Homo sapiens: one gene and its partners. The protein of the gene in region 1 purifies or fractionates together with the protein of each later gene. This does not show direct contact. Each region holds a gene or a part of one and is shown on either strand. Other genes may lie near its edges. The genes, in order: BATF3, ARK2N, RTL6 and ZBTB10.

Region 1 (6,856 bases):
CTGGAAGGACCTGGCAGAAATTAGATATGAGTGTTGCTGAAATCGTGATAAAGAGAACAGTCATCACCCCCACTCCCGTGCAAGGCAGAGGCTGTGTGGCTCTAAGGTGGCTTGCCCCTACCACGGTCTCACCTCATGGAGCTTGTCAGCCTTCTGGGTCTGCTTCTTCCGACTTCTCTGAGCAGCAACTCGGTTTTTTTCTCTCCTTCGGACCTTCCTGTCATCATCCTCAGGGCTCTGGGGAAAAACACTGGGTGGGTGTGATGTCGTGGCCCCTCGCCTTACCCTTTTCTGCCCTGTCTCATCACTCAGCGTTGTTCACTGAGCTTCATCATTTGCTTTGCAGTAGACAGCACCACTAGTTGCTATACCAATGGGCTCACAACAGCCCCTTGCCCAGGAGCACTCACCATGTGAGTGTGTGAAGTGTGTGGTGTGACCGCCGTTTAAAAGATGAGGAATAAGAAACTCAGAGAGGTTAAGGACCTTGCTCCAGGTATTACAGCCACTAAGTGGGTGAGTGGGAAGTGGAACTCAGGTCTGTTGGTCTCCAAATCAACGTTCATAAACCTCTAGCCCACAGGGCGTGTGCCTGGAAGAGCTGTGGTGTCAATGTCGTCCATCTGAGACTGGAAAGCTGGGTGGGGGTGGGGGGCGGTGGAGAGATCTGCTATCTGGAACTTGCTGTTTGCCAGTCCTTATACCACCACACATGAAAGGTACTTTTGATACTGCATGCAAATCATGATTACACTTACAACTAATTGCAGCCACATAACTCTACCAACACACCAAATGATCTTAAACCCCACTGACAGTGTACTCATTTGAACAATGCTTGGCTGACATTTTGTTTCAGAAGTCAGCAAATTTTTTATGTGTCTTGAAAGCTGTTAGCTATATGTAAGATTTAACCAAATTCAGTCAAATCCCTCAATAGTGATCATGAAACAGGCAGGCGGAAAAATGCACTGACCATGGTAAAAACACTTCAATCAGCTATAGAAAACATGAAAAAGGAGAGCAGTATTTGCTTTCTAGAACCCCATGAGAAGACACCACCAAGCGGGAAAAATACCACACTTACAGAGTTTAAGAGCCAAGAGGTACAAACAAGGAAAACTACTCAGTTATTAATATTCACGGAATGCAAATATTAATAACACAAAAAAGGATATTTTCAGTTATCATTTGATCTCATCTTGTATTCCACATAAGACACACATCTTCCCAAGTTACTGCAGGTAAGAAGTTTCAGATATGCAAGAATATAAAGGCATAAAAAGGAGAGGAATAAATAACATACATAGCAAATAGAAGCTTAAGGGAACAAAGTATGATAATACAGTCTTCTAGAGAGGCAAAGAAGTCTTGATAAACAAAACCAGAACATTACAGGGGAACATGTGGTTAGAAGACAGCTCTTTAGCTTTAGAATCACACAGATCCTAGTTTTGTCTCTTAGTGTCAACATGGTCTTGTGTAAATGGTTTAAATTCTCTAAATTTTCAGTTTTCTCATTTATTGTAAGCATAATTCATTCATTCTTTCAATATGTATTAACTGAGCACCTACCATGTGCCAGACACTGTTCTAGACACTGGGGATACAAGCCCTAAACAAAGGGTCAGTGAACTCTGCAGACTTGGTGCTAACAGCCTAATGCTTAGGATTGGGATGCGATGAAATGAGATTTTGTCCTAAAGCTCCCAGCATACAGTATGCCCTCAAGAAGTTACCTGCCTTTGTTGAAGTTGCTACTTTAAAAAAAAATGTATTCTGCATAGTGCTTCTCATGCCTCTTTGCTCTCTGTAATCAAAAAGTCACTAGCACAAGAAAGCAGCCTGCATACTGCCCTCGGGGAGCTGACTCTAAACTGGACTCATCACCATGATCACACCTGCCAACCCAGCAGAAACATTTAATCAAGACAGAAAGAGGTGAGCGAAAGTTAGAGATAGTATTATGTTATTAACCATATCTGATTCAGTCTCAAAAATCCTGAGAGGTTGATGTTACTATATTCATTTTACAGATGGGGAAATGGACGGTCCGAGAGGTTAAACAAATTGCTCAAGGCTGCTCAGCCTGTGTGTGGCAAAGCCCAGGCCCAAACTCAGATCTCTGTGACACTCCAGCGACACCTGATGACATGGGCCGGGCGCTGAATTGGGAAGGTGGGGAGTAAGGATGAAAAGACCCAGTCTTCGTCGTAAGGCAGGTGGCCAAGACCCAGGCAAAGTTTCCAGACGGCCGTCCCTGTGGCCAACCTGGTCTCCTTCCTGACTGCGCCGCTGTAAACGTTGCTAGGGGACAGCGAACTGGGAAGGGGCAAAGGGTTTCCACCAGCTGGGGGCGGAGTCGGCCCTTTGTGGGTTCCCTCCGCCCAGGCTGACTAGTCCGGCGTTCTCCATTCCCGCGGCAGCACCCCCCCCACCCGGGGGAATCCTGGAGGGGCTACAGGCGCGGGTGGTGGGGTGGCAGTCGCTGGCTGCGCCAGGATGGGGCGGCCCTCAGGGCAGTGCGGAGCCCACGTGCCGGGGAGCACCGGCCATGCCCGGCCCAGCCAGGCGTCGGCGCCCTCGGGCTTCTTCCCCCAGAGGGCGCAGGAGCTGGCTCAGGAGCCATTCCAGGAGCCGCGGACACTGTGCGCACGACAGGGTCCCTGGATCGCCCCCATTCCCCAACATCCCTACGCCCCTACCTCTGCTTGTCTCCGGCCGCACCCGCCACCTCTGCACCTCCGCAGTCACCACCACGGAACTCCAGCACCCACCTCCTCGCCCCCCGCGGCGCGCCGGTCCCCGCACCCCACGGCCCTCCCTGAGCCTCTCGCCCTCTACCTGCTGCTGCGGCTGCGGCTGCGGCTGGTTCCCGGGCGCCGCGACGCTCCTCTGCAGGACGCTGCCGGCGGCCGGGAGCCCTTGCGACATGCCGGGCGCTCCTCTGGCCCGGCCCGCCCCGCCCCGCCCGCGCGCCCTGCCCGTGGGGCTGCCTACGGGCGCTGTCCCGCCGCCGGCATCCTCGTGCCGCACCCACGGCCTCGCGCCGGCCCCGCCCCCTCAGGCTTCCCGCTCTCCCCGCTACTCCACGCGTCGGCCCAGTGTCCCCGCGCGCCAGTCCCGGCAGCCGTCCTTCCCGTCCCACGTCTGCCCCGCCCTCCTTCTCCCACCCCCGCCTCGTTTCCTCCTCTGCCCGCCCTCTCTCCGCACCTCGGGGTCCCAAATCCCACCCCTGCCGCGGCTTTCCGCCGGCGCCCCGCGCTTCGTGGAAGTCACGTGGTGGCTCTGAAACCCCGGAGGGAACGCGAAGCCCACCCACGCGAGGCGACGCCCGGGGGGGTGGGGACCAGGGGGGCGCCATGCAGCCTTTGGGGTCCTTCGGCGGCTGCCGGGGAACTCAGGTTGAGAAACACAGTGGGTGTTTTGGGGTCGGTGTTTTTTCCCGGTCCCATCGCGGCATCTTCCTGCGCCTCAGCCACGCCCTGCGTCCGCCCCCCGGCGCGGGGGTCACAGTCCCGGGGGACTTTCTCCGCGGCGATCAGTCATCCGGGCGCCACTCTCGCTCCTCCAGCGGCCCCGAAGCCGCGGCTCTGGGGTGAAGACGCCGGCTTCACCGAGTCCCACCGCGCACCCCGAGCCACGGGCGCCCCAGGGACTCTGCAGGGAGTGCCTGCCCTTCCCGTCTCGGGTCCGCCGGGCTGTGGGAGGGAACGAGGCGGGGCGGCCCCGAGGGTGAATTCCCGGAGCGGAGGGTGGGCATGGGGAGGATGTCCCGGACAAAAACGGTGACGGGCTTCCCTGAGAGCGAATCTGCCACGTGGGACGTCACTAGTGACAGGTTTGGGGATCTGGACCCGCCATGCCACGGTTAAACGGCCCAGATCATTTTTCTTTTTCAAGATTTATCTGCTCGTGCCAAGCTGGGGACCGGGTTGAGGTAGGGCAAGTCCCTGTCCACCTGCCTGCCAGTCAAAAGATGCGAAGCCAAGACAATTACCCGTGGTCCTAGCGAAGGAAACACTAGCGGCCACAGGCTGTGGTCTGCATGCTGTGAGCACCGGGAAAGATAACCGCGATTCGGGATGGGCGGGTGGGAACCAGACCAGAAGGGCAGAAGTGCCTACCAAGTGTGGTCGCTTGGGTCTTCAGGTTTGTGGGCAGCAGTGGGCATGGGGACAGTCATTTCCGATTCCTTTTTAAGTCTTAAATGAGTGCACGTGCCCCCCGCCAGGATTTAAGACCCACTCTTGCAAAAGCTTTGAGAGAGCTTGAGTGAACTTGGCTGCCTGGAGGCCAGCGGGAAAGCGAGCGGAGATTCTTGTCTGTGTGATCAGAAGCTTCGGCCAACTGAGAGGCGGGGAGGAAGACGGAGGGTGGACGCAGCCCTTTAGAGTTGCAGCGCCACACTCCACAGCAGCAAGGCTGCGCAGCAGAGCCAGCGCTACGCTGGGTTATCTGCCCGGATTAATCTTTTCCTCTCCGTTATTTCATCACTCAGCTTAACTGGTGGTTGCCCCAGGACTATTTTGCATCCCACAAGGTACCCACACAAGGTGCCTAGCATAGCACGCTACATACACTCAACAGGTGCTCAGTATATGTATTGCACTAGGTCAGCTGAAAGCTCTCATTCCTGAAGCACTAAAAGGGCTCTAACGAGCTAGGAAAACATCTGGGTCAAGGGGTTATCATTTTCAGAAGTGATTTCATTCCCCAGTGTTTTTTATGCACAGAAAAGGCAAGGTAGAAACACCTCGGGAACATTCCCGTGCACTCCTACACTTTATTCTGGTCATGCCCACTTTTCTCACTGAACCACATCACATTTTAAGTCCTTTGGGGCTGCTGCTTCCCTGTCTCTCCCCAGGGAGCCTGAAACCATGTCCCAGCACACACGAACTCTTTATATAGGCATAGTCTACTGTCTTGTGTTACGCAAGGGTTTCTTCAAATACATTTAGTCTTGGTTAACTAGGTAGCATTTAGGGCAGAGATCAATTTGATGTAAAGATCATACATCAAAATGAATGGATTAAATAGCTAGATACAGAAATGAAAATCAGAGAGCTAAAGCAGAATTAAATTCTTATTTAAGTCATGGAAGCATAGGCAACATAGTGAGACCCCCAACTCTACCAAAAATTAAAAGAAATCAACTAGCTGAGTGTGGTGGTGCACACCTGTAGTCCCAGCTACTCAGGACGCTGAGGCAGGAGGATCACTTAAGCTCAGGAGTTTGAGGCTGCAATGAGCTATGATTGCACCACTGCACTCCAGCCTCCAGGGCAACAGAGCAAGACCTTATCTCAAATAAATAAAATAAAGTTGTGGAGATAAGATAAGGAAAGGATCTTATAAGAATACATGTAATAGGAGAAATTGACTTGATAAGATCTGAACTATATAAAAGGGCTAAATTGTTTTAGATGACAGTATAACCAGGAATGTAAAACAAACAGATTGGATAAATACAGTGCATATGAGAAAGGGTTAATATACAGCCCACGAAAAAGAAGAAGAAGAATATTGAGACAACCCGCAAAGGTAAATTGCAGAAGGGATATGAAATGGCATTTCCCAGCAGAAGAAATAATCAAGGAAAATAGGTATAGGAAAATATATATTAAAATAAGAACCCTTTTTAAGTTAGCAAAATAAAAAGTAATATCAAATGCTGGGGAGAGTATGGTGAAATTGGTACTCACATGTTTCACTGGCTTCATTGTAAATTGGCACAAACCTGCTGGAAAGCAGTTTTACTGTCACTTTCAAGAACCATAAAAGAGTCATCACTTTTGACTCAATTTTCCTACTGCTAGAAAATCATCCTAGAAACATCATTGAAAATACTAGGGAGAAAAATACTATATGCACTAGAAGTTCATAATAACATTTTAAGAGTGAAAAATGTAAGCAACATAAATGTCCGATTATAGTTGAATGGCTAAACAGAATATGTTATTGCCACAGGATAGAATGTTATGCATCTTTAAAATTACAAGCATGCAGGCTGGATGCAGTGGCTCTCACCTGTAGTCCCAGCTACTCTAGAGGCTGAAGTGGGAGGATCATTTGAGCCTAGGAGTGCAAGGCTGCAGTGAGCCATGATTGCACCACTGAGTTCCAGTCTGAGCAACAGAGTGATACCCTGTCTCTTAAAAAAAAAATTACAAACATGCAGACAAATTTGCCACTTGGAATGTTTATTTGATCTGAAGTAGAGTGAGAAAAATCAGGATACAAAAAGTACATATATGACATGAACAGTATGTACGAATGTATGCATATGAGAAAAGATTGGAAGAAAACGTACCCTGATGGTAGCCTTTCTCTTATAATGGTGGCATTATAATTTCTTTTACCTGTACTTGTTGAAAAATGGTTTTTATTATGTTAGCATCTTAAAACATTTCATATGTATAAGTGATATAAATATATTTGTATGGCACTAAGCTCACTGGCCTCACCAGAATGCCAGCACTTCTCTGATCAAGTGGTTTGCTCTAATAACAGACTTTTCCTTGCTTTTCTGTAATATCTTCTCGTTTGTTTTATTCTCTTTAGTCAGAAGGAGAAAGAAAAATGAAAGTAAAGAAAAGATAAACAAGAAGAAGCATTTCAAATGTCTCCTTTTCTTCAGCCTTTTATTTTCTTTTTATTTGTATTATTTTCCTTGAACTGGGAAGAGAAATTATATGATTTGGCAATTTCCGATTAATACCACAATTACCCTGGATTACATCTTTGGGGAGGGGGTAGGAGGTGCAAGAGGTTTATAGCTCAGTGACCAAATCCTCTGGTGATTCACTTCACAAAAGACAACCCTTTATAAAAACGCATCACTCCAGTTCTA
Region 2 (7,027 bases), on another chromosome or scaffold:
CCATAAAAATTGCAATCCAAACCTGCTGGTATTTAACATGGTTACAAAACCCAGATGATATGCTAAAACTGGTCACTTTAAATTGGGGTCTGCTATTTTTTTTTTTTTTTTTGAAATGGAGTTTTGCTCTTGTTGCTCAGGCTGGAGTGCAAAGATGTGATCTCAGCTCACTGCAACCTCCACCTCCCGGGTTCAAGCGATTCTCCCACCTCAGCCTCCTGAGTAGGTGGGATTACAGGCATGCACCACCACGCCAGGCTAATTTTGTATTTTAGTAGAGACGGGGTTTGGCCATGTTGGTAAGGCTGGTCTCGAACTCCTGACCTCAGGTAATCTACCCGCCTCGGCCTCCCAAAGTGCTGGGATTACAGGTGTGAGCCTCCGCGCCTAGCCTAGGGTCTGCTCTTATCTGTAATGCTTGGTCAATATACTAGTGCAAGATAAGAGGCATGAGAAAGTGATGGGGGTGCTAAATACAGACTGCCTCGTGAATGTTAACAACTCCTAGACTAATAGTGTGAGACATTTGCCAAATTTCCTGTCAGAGCCTTAGATAAATTGTGCCACACAGAAAACAAATCAGCTAGGACCCACACCAAGGCAATGAGATGCCGTGCTCTACAAGAGACACCAAAGGCATTCTGGGATGCCTCTGCCTCTTCCTTCTTCTATTTCAGAGCCAGGACCATTAGTCCTTTTCTGTCACTGTAACCCTCTTCAGCATCCCACACATTCCTTTGGGAGCTCCAGTATAGAACCTGACATTCTCTGGCCTTTGGGCCTTTTCTGCTCTGCCCCTCCCCACCCCGCCTCACCCCCCATGGAGGACTTCACAGGATTCCAATGGCAGAACAGTGCCTAAAGCATACAGAAAAGTGAGCCAAAGATGCTATGAGGTTCTTCAAATACTGTCAGTGGTAGTAATCTTTTCCAGTTCTAAGACAAGAACAAGCCCTGTAGAGAAAAATGTAAATACCGCAATTACCATATATTAAACTGAAAATAAAGCAGAGCACTTATATTTAGCTATTGTGACAGCTGGCTGTCTCTGTGTAGGTCTCTGCCTGTGTAGGTCTTTGGAAAGATAACTTCTTTCACTATATGAGAAAATTCTAAATTTTGTCCTCCCACTACAGACCTTTTCAACAAGAAAGGGTAAGAAAAAGTTACCAAGAAAAGGTAGTTATCAAAATAGGGTAAGAAAAAGAAGCACAGAAAAAGTAGTAACTAAATTATCATGGAAAACAGTTTCTTTCTGTCTTTAAAGGAAATAATCCAGCTACTTTTTAAACTGTAAATCCACTGGGTAAGAACTAGGCCTGAGCTTTGCAACACACTGAAGAGAAAGTAATACTACATACTGTATGACAGTCGCATGCTAGGCATAAAAAAAATAAAAAAATAAGTCACTACTCATTTAGCTTTAAAAACAGCAAATTACTACTTTTAGTTCTTTTTTTCTTTCTTTTTTTTTTTTTTTATTGAGACAGAGTCTCACTCTGTCACCCAGGCTGGAGAGAGGTGGTGCAATCTCGGCTCACTGCAACCTCCACCTGCCGGGATCAAGCAATTCTCCTGCCTCAGCCTCCCAAGTAGCTGCGACTACAGGAGCCCACGCCACCGTGCCCAGCTAATTTTTGTATTTTTTTTAGTATAGATGGGGTTTCACCATATTGGACAGGCTGGTCTCGAACTCCTGACCTCGTGATCTGCCCACCTCGGACTCCCAAAATGCCAGGATTATAGGCGTGAGCCACAGCACCCAGCCTACTTTTAGTTCCTTAAACAGCACGTTAAACAACCTTAAAAAGTGAAGGAAGAGGGCTGGACATGGTAGCTCACGCCTGAAATTCCAGCACTTTGAGATGCAGAAGTGGGCAGATTACTTGAGATCAGGAGGGCAAGACCAGCCTGGCCATCATGGTGAAACCCCATCTCTACTAAAAATATAAAAAAATTAACGGGGCGTGGTGACGGGTACCTGTAATCCCAGCTACTGGATAGGCTGAGGCAGGAGAATCACTTGAACGAGGAGGCAGATGCTGCAATGAGCGGAGACTGCCACCGCATCCAGCCTGAGCGACAGAGCTGGAATCCATCTCCAACAACAACAACAAAAAAGAGTGAAGGAAGAGCTCAAAAATCTAAAATCTGGCTGGGTGTGGTGGCTCATGCCTGTAATCTTAGCACTTCGGGAGGCCAAGACAGGCGGATCACTGGAGGTCAGGAATTCGAGACCAGTCTGGCCAACATGGTAAACCCTGTCTCTACTAAAAATACAAAAATTAGCCAGGCGCAGTGGCACACACCTGTAATCCCAGCTACTTGTGAGGCTGAGGCACGAAAATTACTTGAACCCGGGAGGCAGAGGTTGCAGTGAGCCCAGAATGTGCCATTGTACTCCAGCCTGGGTGACTGGAGACTCCCTCTTAAAAAAAAAAAAAAAAAAAAATCTAAACTCTTACCATCAATTTGATGCAGATAAACATGAAGAACATGACCATACTTCATCTCCTTCACTATACTGATTCTGAAACATGGCCATTCTGGTCTAATTATTAAAAACCCTACACTAGGAACAGGAAACCCAGGATTCATTTCTCTGTACTGCCACCATGTTAGGGACAAATCAAGATTACCATCCCTATTGTAAGGATGGGGAAAATGCTCAGAACCTACCTTCTTGACAAGAAGGCTGATGGAAAAGATAAGGTATTTAAAGTTTTAACTTCCCAGGGAAAAAAATCCTAAATAAGTTCAGTTTACCACAGCTATAAGCCTTCCTCACCAAGACTTCTGCTTCTTCTTGCCCCAACTACATTTGTTTGCAGTGAGCCCTTACTAGCAACAAAAATGAAGCCATTTTCAGATATATTAATACAGTTTCCTAAACATGCTGGATACAAGAGTTACCTGAGGCTATTATTAAAAAGAGATTCCCAGAAACCATTTCAGATTTATTGACAGAATCATCAGGAGAAACCTAGGAGTGTGAATATTTATAAACACACTGGGTAATTTCTACGCTCTGGCAAAATTTAAGAAGTACTTGTAGCAAGAGCAACTCGTTGCAGTGCAAGAGAGTAATTAGAAATCCAGTGACTGAGCCACTAATCACTTCCTTACTCAGTCTACTTCAGCATATTAACATAATGCTGGTTAGCATTTCTGAGGGCCTACTATGTGCTGTCCTCCGTAGTAAACACACTGTATTTCACTTAGTGGTAACAATAACCTTTTGGAGTAGATACTATAAAGGTTGTGCCCCAGTTTTGTAGATAGGGAAAACTGAGGCTTTATATAATTTACCTGAGGACATGCAGTTTCTAAGTGGCCACTGGTTCAAAATCACCCACTACAGTGTTCAATTCCAGCATCAACTTAAAAAAAGCAAACACATGGCAAGAATTGAAATGGAAAATTCAGGTCTTTTGTTGATCAGTAGCTTCTCTAATTTCGACTTACTTTTTAATCCCTGCATGTGGTTCAAGTCTTTTGCCTAGGTTAAAACTAAAACTAAATATATATTTTGGATGCAAGATAATCATCTAATTGCTTGGAAAAAGGCAACCTACTCTATCTTTAGTGCGTACCTATGTGATCCTAAATGGGATGGGGCTGTGGACCTGGGTTGAGATGCTGCTGTTGATTAAAGTGAACCCCTGAATAGTCTGCTCAATAACTAGGCTTGCTATTTTGTTGTGAAAGGGAAAGACAGGACCCAGATTAACCATTAAAATTTTAACTTACACTCACACCATAAGAATGACCATCTGACTAATAGTCCAAGCCTCAAAACTATTAACTGGCTCCTAAGCATAAATTCTATTAATATTTTATTGAGACACTGTAAGCACATTCAGATATCTTCACAAGATGAGTTCCACTATGATAATCACATCAAGACTACAGTATTATTTTTATTTATTACCCACATACCAGTATTGTCAGATTTAAGAAAAAAAAATGCCTTTGAAAGAGCCAATAAGCTTCATAACAAAATGTCATGGGGATCTGCTGAGCAGTGGTGACTGCATCCTATGATATACAGAAACCTACACAAAATTTATAGTCCAATATGCACAAATGCTCTCTCTATATATTAATTATATCCTAGAGAAATTATCATATACATATACCAAAAAACACATAAAGAAATGTTAAGAGCAGTATCACTTAAAATAGCACCCTAAATGTCCAACAAGAGAATGGGTAAATTGTGATATATTCATATAGTGGAATACTAAATAGCAGTGGAAAATGAATGAACTAGAGCCACACATAACAACAACAAAACTCATAAAATGTTTAACTAAAAAAGCACATTTCAAATGATTACCTTCAATGTGATACCAATTAGTTTTAAAAACATGCTTATTTAGATATATAACAAATGTAGTACAAATATATAAAGAAATACACAGGAATACCACACATTAAATATCCAATTTAGGATAGCTTTGGCATGGGAAGGGCAAAGGGAAGGAAAACATCTGAAGCCACAGTTGTTTTCCTCCTCACATACTTTTACCACGTTTTATTTCTTAAAAAGAATGGTTGTAGTTTCTTAAGAGTGATTTTTAAATAGGCTAACAATTACTTGAATCTGAAAATGTGAATGCCATCCCAAAAGCTAAACTTTAATGATATTTTAAAACCGCAAACTTTGCATTATTCGGTCAAGTCATAAGAAATGGCTGATTTTTTGTAGGTCAAAAAGTCAAATATTAACAATTCCATACGGTTCAATCTAATATTAAGAATTCTGCATATGAAGAGCAAAACGTTGGTAATCATTCATTTTTTACCCCAAAACTTTACCATAAAATGGTCTATATTTAACGGCAAGACTCAGAAAACAGAGAAATAAAACTGAAGTGGAATGGATGACTTAATTGCCAAAGGATGAAAAACAAAGATAAACCATCTAATATACAAATTACAAGGCTGGGTGCAGTGGTTCACGCCTGTAATCCCAGCACTTTGGGAGGCCAAGGCAGGCGGATCATCTGAGGTCAGGAGTTCCAGAGCAGCCTGGCTAACATGGTAAAACCCCATTTCTACAAAAAATTAGCCAGGCGTGGTGGTGCGCGCCTGTAATCCCAGCTACTCAGGAGCCTGAGGCAGGAGAATCGCTTGAACCCAGGAGGCGGAGGTTGCAGTGAGCTGAGATCGCGCCATTGCACTCTGGCTTGGGCAACAAGAGCGAAACTCCATCTCAAATAAATAAATAAATAAATAAATAACTTAGAAACACATATTGTACAAAATGTGGCCAAACTACTTTCCACTGATATAAAGCATTATTACTTCTTTTTTCTTTTTTGGGGGGATACAGTCTAGTTTTGTCACCCAGGCTGGAGTGCAGTGGCACAATCTTAGCTCACTGCAACCTCTGCCTCCCAGGTTCAAGCAATTCCACAGCTGAGATTACAGGCGCCCACCACCACGCCCACCACCACACCCATCACGCCCAGCTAATTTTTGTATTGTTAATAGAGACGGGGTTTCACCATGCTGATCAGGCTGGTCTTGAACTCCTGACCTCAAGTGATCCTCCCACGTCGGCCTCCCAAAGTGCTGGGCTTACAGACGTGAGCCACTGTGCCCAGAAGCATTATTACTTCTTTTCAAAGTATTTGTATTAATACATATTAATAAATCCTTAAAAGACACTTGTTGGGCAAAACAAGGATTTATACATATAAAAACTGAAGTCCAGAGGAGAAACAACTGGTCCAAGGACAAACAGGCAGCAGTTACCAGTCAAAAAAAATCAAAACTAAATTCAGGTTCAGTTCCAAAATTAGCTACAGTAAATCAATCAGGTCAACAAACAAGTGATTTTTCTGTAATTCCAATCAAAGATTATGAAAGGAATAATTTAAGACAACAACAATCAATGGAGTTCTGTCTCAATATAAAAAGTTCTAAACTATAACTCATTTTTTTGTAAAACTCATTTTTCATAAAAATAACTTTAGGTAGTGATTAAACTATTAGATTAACTCATAAAACCAATGCATTTATAAATTAACTAGAAAACTATAATCTTTCAGCAACACTGAAGAAATTATACACTGCATAAGCAGTCTCTCAATCCCCTTCTCTTCTTAAATGTTCAGTGCTAGTATTTTCACAACAACAACAAAACAAGGTTTAAATTAGAATGCTGAAAGAAACTTTTGAAGAAAATATTGAAGAAGACTTGGAGGTATTGTGAAAGTTTTTCAAAGGTAACAGCAGTGGATTTTTTAGTGAATAAATACCACCTTAAAGAATAATCACAAAACTAAAAAAATGTAAGACAGGGACAGAGATTTTTTTTCCTGAGCTAACAGAGACAGAAACTAAAAGAAAGGAGTTAGAAAAGACAAATGAGAACTTACTGACGAGGAATTAACAGGGTCACTCCACAGCAAGAAGCACAAGAAACAGCGGCAGCGCTGTGTATGAACAGCCAGCCCCACAGGGAGAGATTCAACGATTCCCTATCCAAGCTGCAAGGTCACTACCCAGAATTAAAGTGAGAGAAAGAACTGGCCAAAGAATATGAGCATATCTGGGTCATTTTTGCAAATATTGGGCATTTTTAATCCAAGAAATATGCCTACTGAAACCTACCAATACCTACAATTAATGTCTTAAATGCTCTTATTTCTACTTCCTTCTGAGTAGGAAAGATGAATGACAAGCTATCCAAATTGTTTCAGGTATAAATGGCAGCCTGGATAGTCACAACCAATCATTCAATGCCAGATGTCTCTGGTATGACCTGTTCTCCTCATCAGGGTCCACTACAAGGAAAACAGCTCCAGGACACATGCATATTACACCGTTAGAGAAGGGGGATGGGGAAGACCAACCTGCCTCTGCATTCAGCTCCTCTAGAAGCCCGCTGGTCCTCCAGGTAGCTCCTGTGTCCTGGCCGCCTACAGAATTACTGTGCTCTTGAACTACTGCAGCCGCCAATAAATTGTCCACATTTACCACTTCTGGGTCAGAGTTGGTGTCAGACATATCATAA
Region 3 (7,311 bases), on another chromosome or scaffold:
AGAGATTAAGATGACTATATCTGTGTTCTCCTTTGACCCAGGGCCACACTTTCACATAAACTGTCACACCCCACCCCCATGAAATGACTGAATCCAATTTTTCAGACTTTTTTTCTGACACAGGGGTGACTCCTCTCTCCTCCATCCCCTGGATTCAAATAGGAAGCCTGGCTGTGTTCCCAGCCTTGGGTCCCTATTATGTCTCAGGTCCAGAGCCCGGCAGGCCCACGTCAATACTCAGAAGTTTGTGTTTCTGGACCATTGTGAAGTTTATCTTGTTTATCGATTGGAGCCCACTTATATCCTTTCAATATTTTCTTTGCATATTTTATTGTTCTGTGTTCACAGCCCAGACAGGCACCTCAGGGCATGAATCATAGCTTCATCTGGATGAGAAGCCAAATATTCTTCTCCTGTTTTTACTTTTAAAAGTCCATTAATTTTTATTTTGCTCTATTTTATGGGCTGCCATCTAATTTCCCCTTGGAAGTAAAGTGAAATACAGATAAATTATTTATTTCTTTAAATGTTTTATCATTTCTGAAATTGGGGTGCATCTTATATTCAATGCACCTGGGAATTTAAGATTCATGGTGTCAACCACACTTAGAATTGCAGCAGACACTTCACTAATGTGCCCAGTATCCAGGGGCCTAGACAGACAGAGAGACAGAGAGACAGATGGAGTGACTCCCACGAGTGGATGGGATTCCTCTGTGTGTTTAGAAGAACCTGGAGGGGTAGAAGGCTGCAGGCTCATTTCTGCTTTTGAAGTCATTGACCTCAGTCAAGGTTAACACAGCTCCTGCCCCCATCTGATTTAGAAGGTCTCATGGAAGAAGTTTAAGGACACACAGTCTTCTTTATTTCCCTCTTGCTTCATGCTCTAGAAGTTTTCACCTGGTCACAAAGGGTGCACACTTTGGCACACTGGGGTACAAGTATCCTTTCCAAGTTCTGACACTGTAGTTGTGGGACCAGCCCAAACTGGGCCTACCCTGTTGGTAACAAAATGTCAAGCTGCCTTTTAGGTAGAACAGAGCCCAAAACTGCAAGTCATGTAGCCTGGGCATGTGCCGTAGAAAAAACTTTGACCTCCAACAACACCCAGAACCAATGATTCGTCCTCTTAGAACCAAGAAGACTGGGACATGACCAGAAGTTGAAAACCAGAACTCATTCACAAGCAAAGGGGTCCATCAGCCTGGAAGGTCTGGGGCTAAAATCTACTTTAATATACATTACCACATATGGTCAAATTTGAAGCCCTCCAATCAGACCCTGGCAAGCCAGCATTGATAAATACTTTCTCTTGCCACCTGATCCCTTAAAACTTGCCCCATACCTCAAATCAGGGAGACGGATTTGAGCCCACCTCCTCTCTCCTTGCTGGTCAGTTTTGCAATAAAGCTTTTCTTTTCTCAAAAGCTGGTGCCATATGTATCGGCTTCCGTGTGCATCAGGCAGCAAGACCACTTGCTCAGTAACAACATCCTTATGCCCTAATTCCCTTGAGTGAAAACTGCAGGTCTGAGTGAATCCAGCTCTGTCCCAGGCCTGCCTAAAGAGTGCAGATGGTTCCCAGCTTCAGCCTCCTTGAATACTGTGTCCTCAAAAGACTGGCATACTGGGTATTGTTAACTGAAGAATGACGAGGTTCATAAACCTGGAAAGGAGAGTTTTATTTATCATAAAAGGTTGCACCCTGCAGAGTGGCCATTTGAATAGGCTGGGAAGTGTAGCCTCTGGCCAGAAGCCATAAACAGGCACTTCAAGGGTTGGAAGAGTAAGACAGGAATTTATGTTGATCAGGGTGGCCAAATATACATATTCAATAAGCTACAGGAGGAGTTATAAATATTTATGAGAAGAGAAATATGCACATGTGCAACTGAGCTTCATCCCCCTTCATGGGTAGCACCTACAAAAAATGGCAGTGTTAGCGTGATCTGAAGGTGGAGTTTTCAGCCCTCTAATGTCAAAAGGTGTATCAGAGGACACAAAAGCTTTCACTGCACATCCTCCACAGGCTGGCCAGAACCACTCCAGGGTTGGTGGTCTCTTACTAGGAAAGAATGCTGGTCAGTTGTTGTGTGCCACAAAAAGGGAGGGGCAGTGTCAGATGGTTGGTTGGTATCAATGTTGAAGTCTTTCAAAGAGGCTTGTTTCTGTTTAACTCTTAAGGAAAAAAGCCTAATGGTGGTTATCGGTTATGGAGCGGGGGCAGATAATGAAGTGTGTCCAACCTCCCATCCCATCATGGCCAGGAACTCGGCTTCCCAGGTTTCTCTGGGGTCCCCTGGCCAAGAGGGGGTCTGTTCAGTTGGTTGGGGGGGGGGGGCTTAAATTTTTATTTTTATTTCTCAGTATCTTTTCTCTCCAGCCATGCCAGCTTGAAACTGACCATGCAGAAGGATCACCTAGGTCAAGCTGGGAATCCAGACCCGGAATCAAACAGTTCTTACCCTTTGGCCAGTGTATTAGTCTGTTTTCACGCTGCTGATAAAGACATACCTGAGACTGGGCAATTTACAAAAGAAAGAGGTTTATTGGACTTACAGTTCTGTGTGGTGGGGAGGCTCACAATGACGGCAGAAGGTGAAAGGCACGGAGGAGCAAGTCAGGTCTTACATGGATGGCGGCAGGCAAAGAGAGAACTTGTGCAGGGAAACTTCCCTTTTTTTTTTTTTTAATTTTTTTTTGAGATGGACTTTTGCTCTGTTGCCCAGGCTGGAGTACAGTGGTGCAATGTCTGCTCACTGCAAGCTCCGCCTCCTGGGTTCACGCCATTCTCCTGGCTCAGCCTCCCAAGTAGCTGGGACTACAGGCGCCCACCACCACGCCTGGCTAATTTTTTGTATTTTTAGTAGAGACGGGGTTTCACCATGTTAGCCAGGATGGTCTCGATCTCCTGACCTCGTGATCCACCCGCCTTGGCCTCCCAAAGTGCTGGGAGTACAGACGTGAGCCATTGTGCCCGGCCGGAAACTTCCCTTTTTAAAACCATCAGATCTCTTGAGACTCACTCACTATCACAAGAAGAGTGCAGAAAAGACCTGCCCACATAATTCGATCACCTTCCACCAGGTTCCTCCCACGATGTGGGAATTGTGGGAGTTACGACTCAAGATGAGATTTGGGTGGAGACACAGCCAAACCATATCAGCCAGGTATCTTCACTCCTTGGTATTTACTCTGGGGAACCCAGCAGAGAAAAGGGTGGGGATTTATATACAAGTGTAGTTTATAAAACTTTAGCATGGTAAACAAGATAAGGATCTATCAAAAAGGGCATGGCTAAATACTTTGCGGTACAGGAGTTCCATGGACCACAGGCAATAACTGAAAATCATGCTTCTGAACTATCTTTAATAGGAAAATGCTCAAAATTCAATGTGCTGTTATGGTTACAAAATATTCATAAGGTAAAAAATATTTTGTAGAACATATCATAGAAAAATGACTGGATGGAAGTACAGAAATATTACTATCTCTACGTTACATATATATGTATTACTATTTGCTATCTTTAGGTGGAGGGAGTCTGAGTAGTATAAAGTTTTTTTTACTTCTCTTACATCAAGATTTGTTACATTAAATTTATATTCAAATCACAATAAGGGCCTGATGCAGTGGCTCACGCCTGTAATCCCAGAACTTTGGGAGGCCAAGGCAGGCGGATGCCCTGAGGTCAGGAGTTGGAGACTGGCCAGGCCAACAAGGTGAAACCCCGTCTCTACTAAAAATACAAAAATTAGCCGGGCATGGTAGCACGCGCCTGTAATCCCAGTTACTTGGGTGGCTGAGGCAGAAGAATCGCTTGAACCCGGGAGGCGGAGGTTGCAGTGACTCAGGATCGCGCCACTGCACTCCAGCCTAGGCGACAGAGCGAGACTCCGTCTCAAAAAAAAAAAAAAATAAGAAGAACAGTAAATCATCAAAAAAATAAACCCAATGACAACCACAGAAAGAGCCTTGCAAGCCCTCTTGGGAGGAATGACTGGGAGAACACCAGGTACCCGCCCTGATGAAGACGCCGCAGCAACTACAGTCTTCCCCGATTGGCAGCAGCCCGAGTTGGGGGGTGGGGGGGGGTGGGACTTTGTGCATCACTTCCGGGGGCGGGGCAGCGGTCGTCTCCGCACGCGCGGGAGCGGTCGGTATCCATGGCAACCAGCGGGGCCAGCCTAAGGCCCGCCCGCCACCGCCACCGCGCCGGCCCCGCCCGCACAAAGGCCGCGCGGTGACCCGCCCTCTGCCGCGACCCCGGCCCCGCCCCTGCCCCGGCCCCGGCCTGGCCCGGTCCCTGCACCTGCCGGAGGCCGCCCGCCGCCATCGCCAGCGCCGTCGCTTGGCTGCGCTGACCGGGAAGCAGTTCTCGGCGGTCCGCGCGGTGATTCATCGGCCTGGCCGCGTCCCCCGCGCGGGCCATCTTGGTCACGGCCGGCGGCGGACAGAGCCGCGGAGGAACCGCGAGACCCCAGGTACGCGTGCCCCCGGCCCCCTGCCCGGCCGGGCCCCGCCACTGTGGTGGCCCCCAGGCCCGCGGCCGCCAAGGAGCAGCCCCCTTTGTTCTCCCCCGGGCGGGCGCGGGGCGGGCGCCGCGGGGCTTTGTGCAGCCTCGCCACCCACGCGCGGGCCCTCCACGCCGCCCCTCACCCTCCTGCCCGCTAGTCGCAACTGAAACCTTGAAAACATCTTTTCTTAATCCTCCAGGGCCCAGAGCAGGTCCAGCCACCCGTCTGGCTCCGTAGTCCGCGAAGTCTGCAGTAAAGGAGCCGCGTGGGACCGGGGCCGAAGTCCCTAGGGCCTGGCACCGCGTGCCCCTCTCTCGGGCCCTCGGCTTGGGGGTCTCGCAGCGCCCTGCCGTCGTGCACCCCACACTGCCCCCATTTCTACAGGGGCCCACCTGGTCACCACACCCTCTTGGTCCACCCGCGGATCTCAGCGTGTGGCTGACCTCTGGCCAGCATGGTGCAGCCGCAGACGTCCAAAGCTGAAAGCCCAGCCTTGGCAGCGTCTCCGAATGCCCAGATGGATGACGTTATTGACACCCTGACCTCCCTGCGCCTCACCAACTCGGCGCTGAGGCGGGAGGCTTCCACCCTGCGGGCGGAGAAGGCCAATCTCACCAACATGCTGGAGAGCGTGATGGCAGAGCTGACCTTGTTACGCACCAGGGCGCGGATCCCGGGGGCTCTGCAGATCACCCCGCCCATCTCCTCAATTACTTCAAACGGGACTCGACCCATGACCACACCTCCAACCTCTCTGCCCGAGCCCTTTTCCGGGGACCCAGGCCGGTTGGCGGGGTTCCTGATGCAGATGGACAGATTCATGATCTTCCAGGCCTCCCGCTTCCCGGGTGAGGCCGAGCGTGTGGCCTTCCTTGTGTCTCGACTGACTGGGGAGGCGGAGAAGTGGGCTATCCCCCACATGCAACCTGACAGCCCCTTGCGCAACAACTATCAGGGGTTCCTGGCAGAGTTGCGGAGAACCTACAAGTCTCCGCTCCGGCATGCGCGGCGCGCCCAAATCAGGAAGACTTCTGCCTCTAATAGGGCTGTGCGAGAGAGGCAGATGCTCTGCCGCCAGCTGGCCTCTGCGGGCACGGGGCCTTGCCCAGTGCATCCAGCTTCCAACGGGACTAGTCCAGCGCCAGCCCTGCCTGCCCGAGCACGGAATCTTTAAGAATCCGCCAGCACTTGGTAGCGTCTGCAGCCACCCAGGTAGCATACGCTCTTTGCTGTGTAGAAGAAATGCCCATACGACAGCTTTGCCCCTGTTTGAAGACCTCCCTTCTTGCCTCTCCAGACGTGTTCCCCGAGGAGATCTTCCTTCCGTCCTTCCTGGCGCCCTGGTTGCCCACCTTGCCGTGCTTCCTCTTACGTGCTAGCTTTGTACCTATCGCTCACTGCATGCTCGCCTCCCTCTTGCTGGCATCCCGGCCTGTTTCAATGACTACCGCTCTGCTACTTAGGCACAGGGACTCCGCCGCACGCTGACGGACCACGAGGGCTGACCCCTTCCAGCCTGACTTGGTTCATGGAGGCTCCTACTCTGCCCTCTCCAAGCTCCCCTGGCGGCTCCCCACCTGGTTGCCCAGTTCCTATTGATGAGCTCTGGACAGAAAGATGCCCGTTTGGCCAGGCTGGTGGCTTGATGGGTGTACCTGGAGAGGGGGTCTGGCTTCCTGCCCAAGATGCCTCCCAGCCCTGCCAGGGCCCGGTGCAGCGGGCAGGGCCTCATCTGTGCTGTAGTGGTCGAGTGGTTGCTGCAAGGAGCGTAGTTCTGCCATGTCTGGGGGCCAGGTTCCACTCTGCACATGAATATGCAGTCTGGGAGGCCCCACTGCTCTCACTGGGAAGGACCAATGTTGCACCTCTGTTAATGCCTGACTTCAGCTGCTGGTGTTCTGATGGAGCCAGAGGCTTGGGGAATCTGGAACTTGCCTGCTAAATAAGGTCGTGGTGGACTCTCAGCCATTGGGCAGGTCTATCAGGCTGCAGGTTCCTACACACCCACGCCTGAGGGTCATAGCAGGCTAAGGGTGGATACCAGCGACTCCCTTTGCTGCCCAGGATCTCCATGGGCAGTGCCACAGCGGCTGATGCTCAGTCACTCCTGCTTCTACCCCCTGTCACTGATGGCGAGCCTTGCCCAGCTTGAGACCTGTTCCCATCTCTATTCAGGTGCCATGTGGCCTTCACTGCAGCCCTGCAGCCACCCACGCACCATCTGTGGGTCTCCAAAGGCACCTTGTAGCATGTACTCCCCGTGCCTGGGCAATCAGATGGGCTGCCTTTGTCCAAGGGAAAACAGACTCCCTTCGGGAAACATCCTTAAGCACTTAAGGCCGGGGGGGGTGTCTGCCTCTGGCAACCCAGCCAGGGTCTTGGTGGCATTTGTAAAAGCAAAGAGCTGTGGACTGCCGTGGTCCTAGTGTGGTGACAATGCAGCACTGGCATGCATGTCCTCCTTCTGAAGGACCTCATCCTTCCTCACAGGGGGATGACCAAGAAATCATTTTGTGGCTGAGTTTGGCCACGCCCTTTGGACTGTGCTGTTCCGCCATATTTCAATGCCAAATGAACCACATTGACATGACCTGGACCATAGGGCTTCCTATCCTGGGCTCAGCTGCCCCTGTCTGAAGGGTCTTGGCTTGATTGCAGAAGGACAACCTCCGCACCCACCTAAAGACATGTATATGTCTTGGGATCCCAGAGATTGGGTCCTTGGGCCTGGCTTCTTAAGAGTTTTGATGATGCTGGGAAAAGTGACTGCGATTCTGAAGAACCGCTGCCTTGC
Region 4 (7,027 bases), on another chromosome or scaffold:
AAACATACAAATAAACAAAAAACCCTTATAGTATTCCATAATTCAAACTTGTAAGCCTTAAGTACAAAGATATCTGAATTATACATAAGTCAAAGTTCATTAAGGTGTTCCCCTTACCCCAATTAGTCTAAATTAGTACACTTGCAAAGAAATCTGAATTAAATGTCAGTCAATAAAATTCACAAAGCCAGAAGCAGTTTAGTGCTCACAAGTTTATATTTTTAGGTTTGAATAAAGATTCTTGTGTATTTTCTAAATACACAGACAAAACAGTTCCGGAAGTTTACATACATGTCTTAGGACACTTATATTAGGTAGGTAATTTACATTTTAAAAAGTTGGTCTTCGTAAAAGATCTTCCCAAAGAGCTTTTACAAACAGCAGGCGGAAGTGTTCTTTTGTTTACAGTGTTCAAAATGCCAATGCTCCCACTAAATAATGGCCTCAACCATCTCTCCTCAACCCAAAATATTGTTCTCAATAGCTAGTGTACTCCAAATTTAAGTACCCAATGTCATAAAATTTAGGGCTAGAAAACATCTTTTGAAGTGTGCTTATCCCTAACACATTTTAAACTATCTAGAATTCTTTAACTTCAGTTGAAAGCAGAGATACAGCAGGAAAAAAAAAAAAACTTTCCATTTTAAGTCCTAAAGTGACTAAACACCTGTTAGTTCTAAGTGTGGATATTATGTACCATAGTTAAGTTTAAGGATCTGGGTGACTGAACGGCACAAAAACTGGGGTTTCTATCTAGTTCTTCAGATAAAAACCATTCTTTTATAAAATTAAAATGCCACAGCCAGTTAAGAGCATGTGCTACACTGATGTGTCTTAATATAGTCAAAGTGACAAAACAACTGCTTTATGAAGAAAGAGTAGTAAGGAAATTTATTGGGGGGAGGAAAGACACTCAAAATTCTAAACACAGCTGTCTTATAGGAAAAATATAATCCATAGACTCCATTAAGAGCTGAAATTCTACAAGAGTTGTTTAATGAGGCAGCAATAGAGCCTCCCTGAAAGAGTATGGGCTTCAGAATCAGACGTGGTCAAATTCGAGCTCTGTCACAGCTGTGTTAAATTAGCCAAGTTTCTGAATTTCTCTGAGCCTTTCCTCATCTATAAAATGGAGACAATTAGCACCTACCTTATAGAGGATTAAGGTAAAATCATGTATACAGCACAACGGCAAGTGTGGGCACTCAAAAAAAAAATTGGTAGTTTTTTTAATCGTTTTTCAGAAAAATGAATCTAAACCCTTCATGCTATGTTCAGAAAATCCTAAAAAATATAAATAAAGCTTACTAAAGTTTTAAAAATTAAGATTTTTAAACCTATTTTCCATCACACTTTCCCCCGTATGATACTACTACAGTGATATTCAGGCCGTTTACACCATTTTGTATTAATATAAATGCCCAAGTCCTAATCCTTTCATTTCCTATTTTCTCCTTCCTTTCCCCCATCTTTTCTTATTTCTTTTTCCTCTTGGTTCTTATCTATTATTAAACAACTTTAAGATGTGTTATGCACCTATTATGTACCAGTGTTCTAAGCACTTTACATGAATTAACGCATTTAGCTCACTCTTCTCCATTAGGATAGCTGTACCTAACCCAGCTAGTGTGTTTTCCCCAATTTCAAAGCTACTCATTACTGTTCAGTTTCCCTTTCCTATAACGTTTCTTCTTTTTTAAACTCTTAATTGCTAGTGTGCTAAATTTAGCAAAATATCTAGTAAATAAGAAAAATGAACAGGGGTCCATATGGAAGTATCTGTCTCTGAGAACTCTAATAATGCACAATCTTGATTTATGAGACGGTCTGTAACTACAGAGTGAATATGAAAGAAAGTTTATACTCTTCCCCTTCATTAAAAGCTCTAAAATACTTTTTCATTTAAAATATAAATTACAAGAGACAACTTCGCCAAATGTGTAACATAATTCTGCCAGAGTTCCACAGACAAAATTATGAGTATTTCATTGTTACCTCTGAGACCAATCATAAGTTCTTAGTATCTATCAACTTCCTGAAATTTTACTGTAAGTCAGAAAAAGAATACACTTAAAAAAATAGAAATGTCCAGTAGTATACCTTAGTACTAAAACTATTTTTTTAAAAGATCTAGATGGGAAAAGGCAGTCCCTCGAGATCATGAAACAAAATAAGTTAGGCAGTCAGCAAGTAGAAAAATCTGTCAATTCTGTTTCCGGTAAAATGTTTACTTCAAAGAAATTTTTATATAGGCTGAGGCTAATATATTCAAGAGTATAAACACTTTTCCTTTGGATTACCTAAAAACAAACTTTTAAAGTATCATATTTCAATTGACTAAAAATATAGCCAAATCTGTCACAACACAACATAAAGTAATGGACAATTATAGAATATTTTAAATTAACAGTAACAAGCCATCTACATCAAACCTTATTTCCAACTAAAACCAAACAAAAGCACAACAATCCCGTAGTGTACCAAGTGTGTATTTCAATTTACTGTATGCAATCTAACAAAAATTTGGTCATAATTTACCAGATATACATAAATGATTTAAGTAGTAAAAGAAAATTCAGCTTCAAGAGAGTAAGTTCATATCTTGAGGAAAAGTAAAAGTACATTAAGAATGTAAAGCCAAGTCCAGTTTCTATGCAATAAGTGAACTGTAGTCTAATAAAGCAGATTTAGGTGATTTTTAGATATATATCTTTGTTCTTTAATATATATTTATATATAGACAGATCTACCAATTGTAAACTAGTTTATTTAAAGGAAGGGGATAAATGGGATGAAAGAAATCTTTATACTATACTTACATATTCACAAAGAACATTTTACGTTTAAAATACTTTTTCATTCATAGTATCTTTGCCCAACTAATTTCTACCAGAAATACATTTTACTCATTTGTCTAGAACATTAAGAAGTACTCATCTGTTTTAAACAAAAATCAAACCGAAACTATTCTTATCTGTCAGGTTTACAGTTATGTAGAAACTACAATATAGATGACAAAAGATGCATCTAACCATGTAACTGTAATTTATCTTTGATTTATCCAAGCAGAAACATCATTGTCTAACAATAAACCATTATTCTACTGAAATCAGAGACAATGATAAAGCTTGTCTCTTAAAAAACATCAACTTTTCAACTTTGATCAGATGGAGCACCAAAGGGATTATATCTGTCAAAGCATCTTTGCAATTTTTTCCACATAACTAGCATAATTTAGTTACCTGATATAAAATAGGAAAATATACTCAATTTTTATTTAAAAGAAAGCTGAAAATATGACATCCCTCAATCTTATATAATATACAATATGCTAATAAATGCCATACATGTTAACAATACGTGAAATGCTGCTGAGAGTTCCACAATCAGCTAATTCATGTCACCAGGCTAAGTAAATCTGACAATTTCACCTCAATATGTCACCCTTTGTACCCTGAAGAATTTATAGAATAATAAAGCTTCTCAGAATTTTATTTGTAAGATTTTTGAGACTGTTGAATCATGGTGACTACTAGAAAGACTGTATCAAGGTGTAGTGACTTCAAGGACAGAAAAAAATAAATTAAGTATTGATCATAATTTCAAAACAATCAATATCCCGCTAAGTATGAAACAAAAGAGAATGCACATTTTGTGTTAATTTTCATGATAAAAGGGACACGGGTAAAAACCTGATATTTCACTTATATTGCATAACAAGCTAACCAAACTGGACATGGTGGATAAATTATAAAACAAATCATTTTACTTATTTCTATGATTTTTCTTTCAATTAGGTCTTTCAAATAGGACTGAGGTATAGTACACTGGCAAAAATAAAGAGGCAAACAAGAATAGTGCCAAAGTAACAGATACCCAAAACCAAATACCATGTCAGAAAATATCATATAGTAACCATTTATCAGATTAGAGCAGCAGAAGAAAGTTACTTCTAAATCATAATCATTTTAGTGGTATTTGTCAACTTCGCCACGGTAACTTCATAACATCATTCTTCATTTGTGAAGTAGTAAAATTCATGTCAAAAAGGAAGAGGGGAATGGAGGAAGTCAGTTAGTTCATTCCAATAAATTACCTCTCCAGTTCTTATAAACATGCCCATCAGCACAAAATCGAGAAATAATACCTAAGACTAGAAGAGACTTGGTTTAAGTTATGAAGCAAATTAAATGGAAAAATACAAGAAAATAGAACCAATGGGGTTGAAAAAGCCCCTCACTGAAAATCTGTATTAAAAAAAATAAAATTAATAAAAATAAAAATAGAAACAAAACTCTACTAGTACAAACTAGCCTGAGTGGTTTGATGGACAGAGTGATTGGGTCAATTGTCACTGTACTTCCATAAACGGATTTTCTCCATTCATGTTAAAGTAGCACATGAATGTAAGCTCTTTAAGGACTATTTTCATAGGACCCAAATAGTTACTGTATATCCTATAAATAAAAAATATTTTACTTTGATAACTGACTGAGTATGTGGGGACTCCATGTAATCCAACCACATGGTTGTTTGCTGTATAGTCCTGTGCAAATATAAAAAAAAATTTTTTTTGCTATAAGGCTTTGACCCTACAGTTTTCACAGCAACATAACTACTATCCAGCATGTACCATATTTTGCAAGCCTTCAAGTTCAACAATCCAAATTGTCGATTCATATTAGGTCCAAATGCAGCATCCTTGAGGAGTATAGTAGGTCAGTTAATCATCTAGAGACATACAAACTTCTCCTGATTCATCCCATCGAGAGGGATCATTCTGATCTTCTCCATCATCAACTAGCTCTTCATCAGCTTCTCCTACTTCATTCTCCTCGTATTCTTCATCCCGAGGGAATTCTGTATCCTGTCCCTGATCTACACCTTCTTGCCCTCCTGGCTGTGATTTATCTGCACAGTCTACACAAACACCATAACGTCGAGATCCATGTCTTATTCCAACACTGGCTGCTAACATGAAGATCTTCTTACACACCATACATTTGTATTTTTTATCCTTTTTATGCACCTAATTGGAGGGGGAAAAAATCCAATATAAGGATATTATATATAATAGAATGCATTTGAACCACTCAAATTAAACCACACATTTAATAGTGAGTGAATACACCAGTTTCTCTGTAAAAAGCTCACTATCAGTTCATAAAGTCAAACTGTTTAAAGCAATTTAGGAGACAATCTTCCTTAAATTCACAATTAACTGTTTAAATCCCTTTAAACTTCACTGACATAAATATAGTTTATCTCAAAGATCAGCTGTATTTAAAGTTACTTACCAGGGAATGTCTTTTTACATGTTCTCTTCGAGTAAACAGTTTTCCACAAATATCACAGCTAAATGATCTCACTCCTGTGTGAATGAGCAAGTGCCTTTTTAGTGTTCGTCTGTATTTGGCTACATAGCTACAATGAGGGCATTTTAACTTGTTCATGATTAGAGATGATTCACCTATGAGAATTAAAAAAAGAGAAAGTGCTTATTACACATTAAACAGAAAACTTGCTATCAAAACTTCTTATCTCTATCTCTGAGAACAGCAATTATGTGGAGCTACTGCTACTTGGTTTTTAAAAAATGCAGAACATGAAAGCTTTTAATTGTTAACAATTATTTAATTAATTCTGTATTTGTTTAGTTGACTAATACTTGCCATTTTCCCAGGTTTCTTGTTTTGGCCAAGATTCTGGCAATAATCCATACTTGAAATCATTTGAAGCACCTGGTATCAATCCATACTTGAAATCATTTGAAGTACCTGGTATCAATCCATACTTGAAATCATTTGAAGGACCAGGCATCAAACCATACTTGAAATCATGTGAAGTACCTAGTACAAGTAAAAATTCTGAATTAATAATGGTAATAAAGATCTGTCTCTCATCAGAGTCAGAAAACAGAAATTATATTTATATCCTACAGGCATTATGATAGAATTTCATAGTATGAGTTAAATAAAACTGTATTTTAGTCTAAAATTGAGATGTCTTCCTACTTTATTATCACAATTAAACAAAATACCATTCAACTATAGTAGAAGAAATTCAGTTAAAAAAATTAATCATGGGCCAGGCACAGTGGCTCATGCATATAATCCCAGCACTTTGCGAGGCTGAGGCAGAAGGATCACTTGAGCCCAGGAGTTTGCAACCAGCCTGGGCAACATGGAGAAACTCCATCTCCATCTCTACAAAAAAATTTTAAAAATTAGCTGGGCATGGTGGTGTGTGCCTGCAGTCCCAGCTACTGGGGAAGATCATTTGAGCCCGGGAGTTGCAGTGATTCAAGATTGCGCCACTGCACTCCAGCCAGGGCGACACAGTGGGATCATGTCTCAAAAAAAAAAAAAAAAAAAAAAAAAGGTGGCGGGCGGGAGAAAAAAACATGAATATCATTTAATTGTGCAGACGCCACAAGAAATTACCCTTTTAAAGGATGGGTATATTCAAACCAGAACTCCTAATAGTTGCTTTTTCTAACTACTCTATCACTTAAGATTTTATCACCCTAAAGCCCAGCTATCAAATGGGATATTCTCCTTATTACGAATCCAGGACAGGCACATAATTTTAAGATTAATTGGTACAGAAAAATAGACTAAGAATAAAGAATATATATAGGATAATTAAAAATGTAAAGTTCTATTACTAGATCCTTGTTTCAGACATATTAGGGCAAGGTAACTGAATGCTCTCAGGGTTCCCTGAAATTTCTTTCTAACTCCATCCTTAAATAAAATAACGTGCAGAAGATAGAATCAAAATAGAATAATACATGTGCCTAAGGATCTTCAGATTAGCAAGGACAGGAATTATATCCACTGGATTTAATTCCATCTTTAATGTAATTCCTTGGACCAGGAACCTTTTGGCAATAGGAATATATATCCAGAATCTTCCACAACTATTGCCACCCTGATCCAATCAATCATGAGCTCTAGCCCCTGGACTGTCTTCAGTAGCCACCAAAAACTTGTCTCCCTACTTCCACTGTTGCCTTCCTAGAGTC

Evidence for each region.
Region 2: the proteins of BATF3 (region 1) and ARK2N purify together in Homo sapiens (affinity purification with mass spectrometry; 2 studies listed by BioGRID and IntAct, with this or other methods). This does not show direct contact.
Region 3: the proteins of BATF3 (region 1) and RTL6 purify together in Homo sapiens (affinity purification with mass spectrometry; 2 studies listed by BioGRID and IntAct, with this or other methods). This does not show direct contact.
Region 4: the proteins of BATF3 (region 1) and ZBTB10 purify together in Homo sapiens (affinity purification with mass spectrometry; 2 studies listed by BioGRID and IntAct, with this or other methods). This does not show direct contact.

Annotation. Positions count from the first base shown.
Region 1 is NC_000001.11:212,696,829-212,703,684, forward strand, and holds the start of BATF3 (basic leucine zipper transcriptional factor ATF-like 3), read right to left. Parts: upstream 3,013-6,856; 5' UTR 2,935-3,012; coding exon 2,845-2,934; intron 238-2,844; coding exon 133-237; intron 1-132. UniProt on the Homo sapiens protein: AP-1 family transcription factor that controls the differentiation of CD8(+) thymic conventional dendritic cells in the immune system.
Region 2 is NC_000018.10:46,240,027-46,247,053, reverse strand, and holds part of ARK2N (protein ARK2N), read right to left. Parts: coding exon 6,867-7,027; intron 1-6,866. UniProt on the Homo sapiens protein: AMPK substrate important for exercise capacity and skeletal muscle function.
Region 3 is NC_000022.11:44,495,217-44,502,527, reverse strand, and holds the start of RTL6 (retrotransposon Gag-like protein 6), read left to right. Parts: upstream 1-4,294; 5' UTR 4,295-4,484; intron 4,485-4,716; 5' UTR 4,717-4,971; coding exon 4,972-5,691; 3' UTR 5,692-7,311.
Region 4 is NC_000008.11:80,517,225-80,524,251, reverse strand, and holds part of ZBTB10 (zinc finger and BTB domain-containing protein 10), read right to left. Parts: intron 5,850-7,027; coding exon 5,673-5,849; intron 5,471-5,672; coding exon 5,298-5,470; intron 5,030-5,297; coding exon 4,724-5,029; 3' UTR 1-4,723. UniProt on the Homo sapiens protein: May be involved in transcriptional regulation.